Linked DNA regions of Homo sapiens. The protein of the gene in region 2 interacts with the protein of the main gene of each other region in a pairwise test. Each region holds a gene or a part of one and is shown on either strand. Other genes may lie near its edges.

Evidence for each region. The genes of interacting proteins can lie anywhere in the genome.
Region 1: the proteins of NID1 (region 2) and SKIL interact in a two-hybrid assay, tested with the Homo sapiens proteins (one large-scale study listed by BioGRID and IntAct).

What each region holds. Positions count from the first base shown.
Region 1 is NC_000003.12:170,373,884-170,379,242, forward strand, and holds part of SKIL (ski-like protein), read left to right. Parts: intron 1-5,359. UniProt on the Homo sapiens protein: May have regulatory role in cell division or differentiation in response to extracellular signals.
Region 2 is NC_000001.11:236,043,546-236,048,904, reverse strand, and holds part of NID1 (nidogen-1 precursor), read left to right. Parts: coding exon 1-215; intron 216-3,221; coding exon 3,222-3,448; intron 3,449-5,359. UniProt on the Homo sapiens protein: Sulfated glycoprotein widely distributed in basement membranes and tightly associated with laminin. Also binds to collagen IV and perlecan. It probably has a role in cell-extracellular matrix interactions.

The DNA.
Region 1 (5,359 bases), on a different chromosome or scaffold from region 2:
AAAAAAAAAATGTCTAAGAATTTTAAAGGGTTTTTTTTGGTACAAATTCGAATACTTGTATGAATAATGCTGAGCAGGTGGAATAGCTTTTGTATTTAGAAAGGAGTGACAAGAAGTTTTTTGTAAATGAAATCAAGCTCTCTAAATTATTTTTCATTATGAGACTGATTAGCATCGTATCACTAAAATAGAGTGGTTCTTCATTAGGAAATCTGATTATCAAAGGGTCACGTATACAGAATAAGCATAGGAAGGTGCAGAAATTTAGAGAAACTTTCATAAAATGTTTCTTAGTTTTTACTTATTTTATATTTTTTTACTGTATATTTTGGAATTGTTTAAATTGTACATTCATAGACATTTGGAGTTTTATGACCTAAGAGGAAAGAACCTTTGGAATGAAATTTTTGTGTCTGAAATTTTGCTTATGTGTTTGAAATGAGGATGCTATCTGTTCATTTTGGGGTAAATAATGATGGGGAAATTGGGTGATAAGAGCATTTTGAAATGTTAAGGCTCTAACTTAAGCTACTAAATGATCCACTTCTTTGGCAAGTTATATAATGTATTGTATTTTAAAATTTAAATACACATAAAAATAAATGATTCCTATGTTGAAAGGTAAGATACCAGGCAGTAGATACTCATAATTTGGTATCTAATTTTTATTCCTGATTAGTAGCATTACTGCTGAACCATTTAATTATATTGTTCTTTTTTTGAAAACCTAATTTGTATGTTGACACAAATGCAGAATAGATGAGAAAATCTGGCATGCCTCTGAATGTTTTGTTGTATCATAAACATTGTGCTTTTCTTAATTGTTTTTAACATACAGTTAGGATAATTTGTTATAAATGTGTTTATGGCTTACCACAGCATATTAGGTAAAATTAGCTTGCAACATTTTATCATGGTTAGTGTTGTGCGTGTCCCCATCATTTGTATTGTTTAATTTATATCTCTGAAAAATGCAGCCTTAGAAACTGTTGGGCTTCCTTGGTGCTTCATGGAGTAGAGGGATATCAAACGTGAAAGAGACCAAGAGTTTTGTGGTAGCAGAATAACCTTGTAAAAGGCTACCTTGGGAATTAATGAGCTGCACTGTCATTCAGAATTCATTCAACAAATAATAGATATTTGATAGATGAGTCCCTACTACATGCTAGGCATATAGTGCTAGGTATTAAAAATACAAAGGTAAGGCTGGTTCTTGACCTCAAGCTGCTGTTTAAGCAGAGGCTGCGTAGCCACTTAACAGGGATTTTAAATAGGGAATTCAGACATTGGCTAGGGGACTATGCTAGGTGATCTTTAAGATTCCTTAGAAGCTCTAGTCTGACTCTTACTGGGTTGGTCAAGACTAGGAAATAAAATAAAGAATAGGAGCTAAGAGGGATGACTGTTTAAAAATAAAGGAATGTGCTAGCAGTTATTTAAGGTGGCACCTGAAGTTTAGAGACACAGAAATAAATAGATGCTAGGTTTGGCTCATGAGTAAAGATAAAACTTACTCTTATAAATCAAACTGTAGGGTTTTGAAATGAACTTGATCAAAATTGAGTCAGATTTCAAGTCAAGGTCTTTGAGCAAATTTAGAATTTGCTTGATATTCTGAAGATTTGAGATTCCAGTATTCATTATAGGAAAAACTTTGAAATATATAAATCAATTTTAGTAATTTTATATTTTTTTCTTTTTCTTTTTTCGAGACAAGCCCCACACTGTTGCCTAGGCTGCAGTGCAGTGGCAGGATCATAGCTCACAGCAACCTCAAACCTGCCAGCTTCAACTGATTCTCCCACCTCAGTCCCCTGAGTAGCTGAGACTACAGGCATGCGTCACCACGGCTGGCCAATTAAAAACAATTTTTTTTGTAGAGATGGGGGTCTCTCTATGTTGTCCAGGCTGGTTTCGAACTGCTGGACTCAAGCAGTCCTTGTGCCTTGGCCTCCTAAAATTCCGGGGCTATAGGTGTGAGCCACTGGGTAGGGCCAATTTTAGTAGTTTTAATTTAAAAAATCTGGAAACAATTGATTTCTTGGGCAGTACATCTAGAATTCTTTCAGATATAACACTTATTTAAAGAGGAGCTTTCTTTGTTTTTTAACAAATGATGTCTAGAAAAGAAATTCTCATTTAATTCAAGCTGATTTTCCTTTTTTTTTTTTTTTTTTTTTTTGAGACGGAGTTTCACTGTCTTGCCCAGGCTGGAGCGCAGTGGCGCAATCTCAGCTCACTGCAACCTCCACCTCCTGGGTTCAAGTGATTCTCCTGCCTCAGCCTCCCGAGTAGCTGGGATTACAGGGATGCACCACCATGCCCAGCTAATTTTTTTTTTCTTATTAGAGATGGGGTTTCACCATTTGGTCAGGCTGGTTTCGAACTCCGGACCTCAAATGATCCACCCACCTCGGCCTCCCAGAGTGCTGGGATTACAGGTGTGAGCCACTGTTCCTGCCCTCAAACTGATCTTAAATTTTACTGATTTGTTAGAATGAACTTATCCTCGTTCATTGACACCTCTTTGGTCATGTAGAGCTGGGGTGCAAAATGTTCTACCCGTTAAGCTACTTTTTAAAAGCATTGTGTTTTTTTAAAAAACTGTTTTCATGAATTGTAAAATGTCTGAAAAAGTTTTGAATCTAAGTGGTATACAGAACATAATTTAGCTATGTCACGTTGACTCAAGAGTTTTTATTTTTTTAACGAGACAGGGTCTGGCTCTGTCACCCAGGCTGGAGTGCCATGGAGCAATCTCAGCTCACTGCAACCTCTGTTTCCTGGGCTCAAGTGATCCTCCTGCCTTAGCCTCCCAAGTAGCTGGGACTACAGGCACACATCACCTTGCCTGGCTAATTTTTGTATTATTATTAGAGATGGGGTTTTGCCTTGTTGCCCAGGCCAGTCTCAAACTCCTGAGCTGAAGCAGTCTGCCCACTTTGGCCTCCCAAAGTGCTAGGTAATATCACAGATGTGAGCCGTTGCGCCTGGCCAACTCAAGATTCTTAAACATTAATTACCATACTTTGTTGAATTGGGGTAGGGGACAATTGAGATATATTAAATTATTTGCCCCGGTCTATGCTAAAGCCTTTACTCAGATTGTCTTGCTTTTTGAAGCAGTTTTTGTGTTTGCATCTTGTAATTTTCCTCTCTCCTTAGGCTGTCAGCTGTCACTTAGCATCTATCATTTAGTATTTCTGTTGCCAGAAGTCAGTTCCCTTTCTTACTGCTATAACTAAGCTATAGGCTGAGGAACTATGTAAATAAGTGATCAGTTTGTTTTATAAATAAGCAGTGGAATTTGCCCAGATTCTGAATATTAGTTCAAAATGTGATGTTTCGTTTTCTGTTTTCCTTTTTTTTTTTGAGATGGAGTTGCACTTTGTTGCCCAGGCTGGAGTGCAGTGGAGCGATCTCAGCTCACTGCAACCTCTGTTCCCCTGTTTCGGTTGATTCTCCTGTCCTCCTAAAGTGCTGGGATTATAGGCATGAGCCACTGTGCCCAGGCCTTTTTTTTTTTTTTTAATTCCACATTTACATATCATGTAGAGACCTTCACTGAATATTCAACTCTTAAATCTTTTAAAAATATTAATTTTTTTCTTATAATTTTGAGGTCTTATTAGTATTTCAAATTCATTGCTCAATAATTCTTTTTTTTTTTTTTTTTTTTTTTTGAGACAGAGTCTCACTCTGTCACCCAGGCTGGAGTGCAGTGGCACGATCTCGGCTCACTGCAACCTCCGCCCTCTGAGTTCAAGCGATTCTCCTGCCTCAGCCTCCTGAGTAGCTGGGATTACAGGCGCCTGCTGCCGCACCCGACTAATTTTTTTTTTTTGTATTTTTAGTAGAGACGGGGTTTCACCATCTTGGCCAGGCTGGTCTTGAACTCCTGATCTCGTGATCCACCCGCCTTGGCCTCCCAAAGTGCTGGGATTACAGGTGTGAGCCACTGTGCCTGGCCTAATTCTTAACAAAAATAAAGATCTCCCACATACATATTTTTTTCTTTTTTTATTTTTGAGACAGAGTCTTGCTCTGTCACCCAGGCTGGAGTGCAATGGCGCCGTCTCGGCTCACTGCAATCTCCACCTCCCAGGTTCAAGCGATTCTCCTGCCTCAGCCTCCTGAGTAGCTAGGATTACAGGTGCGTACCACCACACCTGGCTAATTTTTGTATTTTTAGTAAGACAGGGTTTCACTATATTGGCCAGGCTGGCCTTGAACTCCTGACCTCGTGATTTGCCTGCCTTGGCCTCCCAAAGTGCTGGGATTACAGGCGTGAGCCACTGTGCCCTGCCTATTTTTGTCCTTTAGTTGGCCCTAAGTCATCTCCTGACTGATCAGATTTTAAGATACATATTCTAAGAGCGGTTTCCTTTCTGTTTTCAGCCTGTTTTGTTGAGGGCAGTGGGTTACTTGTCAGATCTCTCCCAGGTTTCTTCATTCTCATTGATTTCCTCCATTAGTAGGATCTCAGTAATCAAACCAGAGTTTGGATAGTTTAGAGTTGATTTTGTTTTAATCACTACTGCTTAACATCCAGAGATCTGTTTGCAGTCCTTAGTTTCTTGGTTCCAAACTGGAATATTGGGACATCAGGCAAAACAGCTTTGCTACTTTCCTAATTTGTTGAATTGGGAATTGGACTCTCTCTCTCTCTCTTTTTTTTTTTTTTTGGAGACAAAGTCTTGCTCTGTCACCCAGGTTGGAGTGCAGTGGCGCGAACTCAGCTCACTGCAACCTCTGCCTCCCGGATTCAAGTGATTCTCCTGCCTCGGCCACCCAAGTAGGTGGGATTACAGGCACTCACCACCATGTCCAGCTAATTTTTGTAGAAACGGCGTTTCTCCATGTTGGCCAGGCTGGTCTCAAACTCCTGACTTCAGGTGATCCACCTCCCTCAGCCTCCCAAAGTTACAGGCATGAGCTGCTGCACCCGACCAGAATTGGAGCTTCTTTTATTTATTTATTTATTTATTTATTTATTTATTTTTTTTATCTTGAGATGGATTCTGGCTCAGTTGCCCAGGCTGGAGTGCGGTGGTGCAATCTCGGCTTACTGCAGCCTCCGCCTCCTGGGTTCAAGTGAGTCTCCTGCCTCAGCCTCCCGAGTAGCTGGGATTACAAGTGCGTACCACCATGCCCAGCTAATTTTTGTATTTTTAGTAGAGACTGGGTTTCGCTGTGTTGGCCAGGCTGGTCTTGCTCCTGACCTCAGGTGATCCACCCTTCTCGTACCACCACGCCCAGCTAATTTTTGTATTTTTAGTAGAGACTGGGTTTCGCTATGTTGGCCAGGCTGGTCTTGCTCCTGACCTCAGGTGATCCACCCTTCTCGGCCTCCCAAAAT
Region 2 (5,359 bases):
TCGCCCCTTTCCTGGCGGACTTGGACACGACCGATGGCCTGGGGAAGGTTTATTATCGAGAAGACTTATCCCCCTCCATCACTCAGCGAGCAGCAGAGTGTGTCCACAGAGGGTTCCCGGAGATCTCTTTCCAGCCTAGTAGCGCGGTGGTTGTCACTTGGGAATCCGTGGCCCCCTACCAAGGGCCCAGCAGGGACCCAGACCAGAAAGGCAAGGTAAGCTCCCCTCCAGGTCCAAGTGCAGGTAATCAGACACATTGGCTTCATACACTTTGGTCTCACGCCTTGTGCTGCTTTGACATAAGTTATACACCATTGATAAAGACAGGAAATCCAAAGCAAAATCTAGTAGGCTGGTTATTGCAGGTCCCAAACCTCCAAAAGCTTATCTGCAAGGTTGTATAACTCTACGTTTTAATGACAAGTAGACATAAAGCAAAGCAATTCCTGGTAAGACTGCTATGTGGCAAAAATAGGGTTGATAAATGGCATCCCCTGGCTGCTCTTACCTCAGGTGGCAGATAGTGGAAGGATAATTTATTTATTTATTTATTTATTTTTCTTTTTTTTTGAGATGGAGTCTCGCTCTGTCGCCCAGGCTGGAGTGCAGTGGCACGATCTTGGCTCACTGCAAGCTTCGCCTCCCCGGTTCACACCATTCTCCTGTCTCAGCCTCCCGAGTAGCTGGGACTACAGGCGACCACCACCACGCCCGGCTGGTTTTTTTTGTATTTTTAGTAGAGACAGGGTTTCACCATGTTAGCCAGGATGGTCTCTATCTCTTGATCTCGTGATCCACCCTTCTCAGCCTCCCAAAGTGCTGGGATTACAGGCGTGAGCCACCATGCCCGGCCTTTTTTTTTTTTTTTTTTTTTTTTTTGAGATGGAGTCTTGCTCTGTTGCCCAGGCTGGAGTACAGTGGCACAATCTCAGCTCTCTGCAGCCTCCACCTCCCAGGTTCAAGCAATTATTGTGCCTCAGCCTCCCGAGTAGCTGGGATTACAGGCATGGGCCACCACACTGGCTAATTTTTGTATTTTTAGTAGAGATGGGGTTTCACCACATTGGCCAGGCTGGTCTCCAACTGCTGACCTCAAATGATCCACCCACCTCAGCCTCCCAAAGTGCTGGGATTACAGGTGTGTGCCACCGAGCCCGGCTGGAAGGATAGTTTCTGACTAGAGAAATTATTAATATGAAACGATAGGTTAAAATAACAAAGTACTCCTGAGGGATGCAAAGATAGAAAGGTAAAGCCCAGACTCTAGTTGGGGAGACAAGAATCATTTGGACCATGTGAGTGGTTCAAAACCCAAGTATTGTCATAACCCAGGGTTGGCCTCTCCGTGGGCGCAGTCATCAGGGACGGCTGGAAGGACCAGGCTGTAGAGCACGGACTTGCCCTTGAAGGAAGCAGGGTCTTTGAGTAGGTCAGGAACTCGTTGTTAGACCTGAAGTGACTTTTTAGGACAGGCCTCGATTTTCCCTTGGAAAAATAATTTCTCTCTACCATAACTTCACCTTTATAGGAAAATGAGGAAGAAAGAAACTTGAAGGGTCCCAAAGCACTTCATATAAATGGGAGGTATTTCAGGCTGGTGGTTCCTAAAGTGTGTACCACAAAACACCAGTCCTACAAGATACACCTTGAGGAAAAGGCCTTCTAGTTTGGGAAATGCTAAAACTATATCTCCCTCTTGGTGATTCACCCTGTTCACTCTGAAAAGTCCTGCAGTCAGGAAACTTGCAACTTGCCTAATACTACTTTTTTTGTTTTTGTTTTTGTTTTTGTTTTGAGACAGAGTCTTGCTCTGTCACCCAGGCTGGAGTGCAGTGGTGCCATCTTGGCTCATTGCAATCTCCACCTCCTGGGTTCAAGTGATTCTCCTGCCTCAGCCTCCCAGGTAGCTGGGACTAAGGGCGTGAGCCACCATTCCAGCCTTGCCGAATATTGTTTAACTGAGCAGTCTCCAAACCTGTGACCATACCTCTTCCCTTCCCCCGCTCCAAAAAAGATGCATTACATCCCACAGAGCACACTTTGGGAAAGTCTGTTAGGGGCCTGCATGACACATTTTGCTTGCCAACTGTTATCTGTCTGAGTGCCAAACTTGAAAACAGCTTAAATGTTAAGTGTCTCAGCTGCCTCCCTTTCACTTGGGTGATAAATGCCTAACCCATTGGTATGGATCCCTTGCTTGCCTCTTGGGCCTAATCTGTTCCACCTCCGCATACCCTTTGCAGCCGCTATACCAAATTACATGTAATTCCCTGACCTTGCCCTTGCTCTTTTTTTTTTATCCGCAGTATCTTGCACAGGCTGTCCTCTCTGTTTGGGACGTCCTCTCCCTGACCCCCCTACAGGTGGCAGCTTCCTCCTGCTTGTTCATTCAGACTGGGCCCTCCCGTGAGGCCTTGACCAACCACAGCCTCCTGGCATGGGATGCACTCCCACCGCTCCTGGCATGGGACGCTTCCTCTTACGGCTCCTGCAGCGCTTTGCAAATGTTTCGATTACAGAATCCAACCTCAGGTTTTGCAATGTTTTCTTCACATGTCAGCCTTCCCAAAGTGCTGGGATTACAGGCATGAGCCACCGCGCCCGGCATGTGCCTGCTCTTTCATACGTGACCTCATGTAGTCTTCCTCATTTCTGTGAAGGAGGTGGTTTTATCTCCATTTTACAGATGCAAACATCGAGGCTTAGGGAACTCAAGTATCACGCCCAAGTCACATAATAATGAGTAGAGCAAAGATTTGGATCCAGGTCTGTTTTCTCCCAAATCTCATGTTTTGTTTTGTTTTTTCTACTGTACGGTGCTTGGGTTCAATAAATGTTTGTTAAACGATGAATGCGGTTGAATATGTTAACAGCCATGGAAACAAAGTCTTTGGGTAAGAATTTCCTAAACTGCGTGAGATTTTAGGCCACCATCTGGAGGTACCATCTGTATAATTTTTGGTTAACCTTAGGGCCACAGTTATGCAGAAGATATTTATGAATTAATCAGAAAATGTCATGTTGACATAGCCTTAGGGATATTTCAGTGGAACTATCCCAGAATCCTAGGTTCTTGCTACAAAAGTCCTTCTTTTAGAATAAGGTGAGAATATTGCCATCGCTCTATAGCACTGTACGCTTTATAGATAGTCTGGCGAATAACACATTTTAAAATCTATCGATATTTTTCCGAGTAACTGAATTTTAACTCATCTTCACAGAGAAACACGTTCCAGGCTGTTCTAGCCTCCTCTGATTCCAGCTCCTATGCCATTTTCCTTTATCCTGAGGATGGTCTGCAGTTCCATACGACATTCTCAAAGAAGGAAAACAACCAAGTTCCTGCCGTGGTTGCATTCAGTCAAGGTTCAGTGGGATTCTTATGGAAGAGCAACGGAGCTTATAACATATTTGCTAATGACAGGGAATCAGTTGAAAATTTGGCCAAGTATGCTTTCTTTGTTCTTCAGTAGATTCTCCTCTTAATATTTTTTAATGTGGATAATGTAATGTGTATTATAGATCATTACCTAAAAATGTTCCTATGGATTTAAGTTTTGCATATAGTTTTTATATTATGAGATACTCTTTTTCTGATGAACTTAAGGAAATGTATTTTTAGAATGAACAGATATCCTATTTTTTAGATATCATCCTCATTTAAAATAGTTCTTTTTTTTTTTTTTTTTTTTTTTTTTGAGACAGAGCCTTACTCTGTTGCCCAAGCTGGAAGGCTGGAGTGCAATGGCACAATCTCGACTCACTGCAACCTCTGCCTCCCAGGTTCAAGTGATTCTCTCGCCTCAGCTTCCCAAGTAGCTGGGATTACAGGTGTGTGCCACCATGCCCAGCTAATTCTTGTATTTTTAGTAGAGACGGGGTTTCACCATGTTGGCCAGGCTGGTCTTGAACTCCTGCCCTCGGGTGATCTGCCCACCTCAGCCTCCCAAAGTGCTGGGATTACAGGCATGAAGTGCCGCGCCCGGCCTTAAGACAGTTTTTACCATTTTGTCTATAAACACTGTTAGAAATAAGGGTTATTCAAACCTATCTCCTTTGATCTCAAGGCTGAGAAAACCTTTTCCTTCACATTGACTAGGGGGAATATTCTTACAACAGAAATGGTGCTCTCAGGTTATGTTGTAGAATTTGACAAAAGAGGGAAAAGCCCAAATTGGATTTTGAAGATTAAAACCTTTCCTCTCCCATTATTCTTTAAAAACCAAGAGTGAATCCCCTAAAACCACCTTTTAATTTTATATCTTCAAATCTAGCTTGAATTCCTCTGCCCTTCACTTAGTGATGTGCTGGTAAATGCTTAACAACTGGTTTTATGAGGGCAGAGGAACCTGATTTATAGCGTTTGCCTGTTTCTGTGATGTAAATACTCCTACGATGGCCAAGTTCAAGTTATTAACGTCATGTCACTCATTGAAGAGTTCAGAAAACATGCACCATTATATATATTCTCACCATAAAGATAAAATAGGTTTAATATATATAATTTCAAGAGCATGGACAGTAGCAAAAGGATTAGAATATGATGAGTTTTGAATATTTTTTCCTTTTAAAAAATATAACTTGTTTAATTGGAAGTTCATGTAATTTAATTGTTTAGAATGGCTGTGTTTAATAACTGGCTTGCAAAATTCCTAAAACTTTAACAGCCAGCTCTCACAAGCTAGTCCATATAAGCTCCCACACACCACTGTCTTTACTTGAATCCCAGGCAGACAAATTGATTAGACATCCTATTTATGCAGGACTTTTGTGATTTATCATCCCCACCCCACCCCATTGTTTTGCTCAGTATTTTCCACTGAGTAATGTATGTCCCCTCTGTCCACCGTATAATATAATTATTTCATGTAATTTCTGATAGGAGCACTTCCAATCACAGACACAGAAGAATGGTAAAAATGGTGGAGGAAGAAGTAGAGATTAGGGATATTCTACTATATTTTATAGTTATAAAATGCTTTTGGATTTTGTATCTCATTTGCTTTTCACCATATCCTTTAAGCACCAAAGGTAAACTGAGACTAGTCCAAGATCTCACAGCCAATGGAGTTGGGATTTCTTTTTTTGTTGTTTTTGTTGTTGTTTTGAGATGGAGTCTTGCTCTGTCGCCCAGGCTGGAGTGCAGTGGCACGATCTTGGCTCACTGCAAGCTCTGCCTCCCGGGTTCACGCCATTCTCCTGCTTCAGCGTCCCGAGCAGCTGGGACTACAGGCGCCCACCACCACGCCCAGCTAATTTTTTGTATTTTTAGTAGAGACGGGGTTTCACCATGTTAGCCAGGATGGTCTCGATCTCCTGACCTCATGATCTGCCCTCCTCAGCCCCCCAAAGTGCTGGG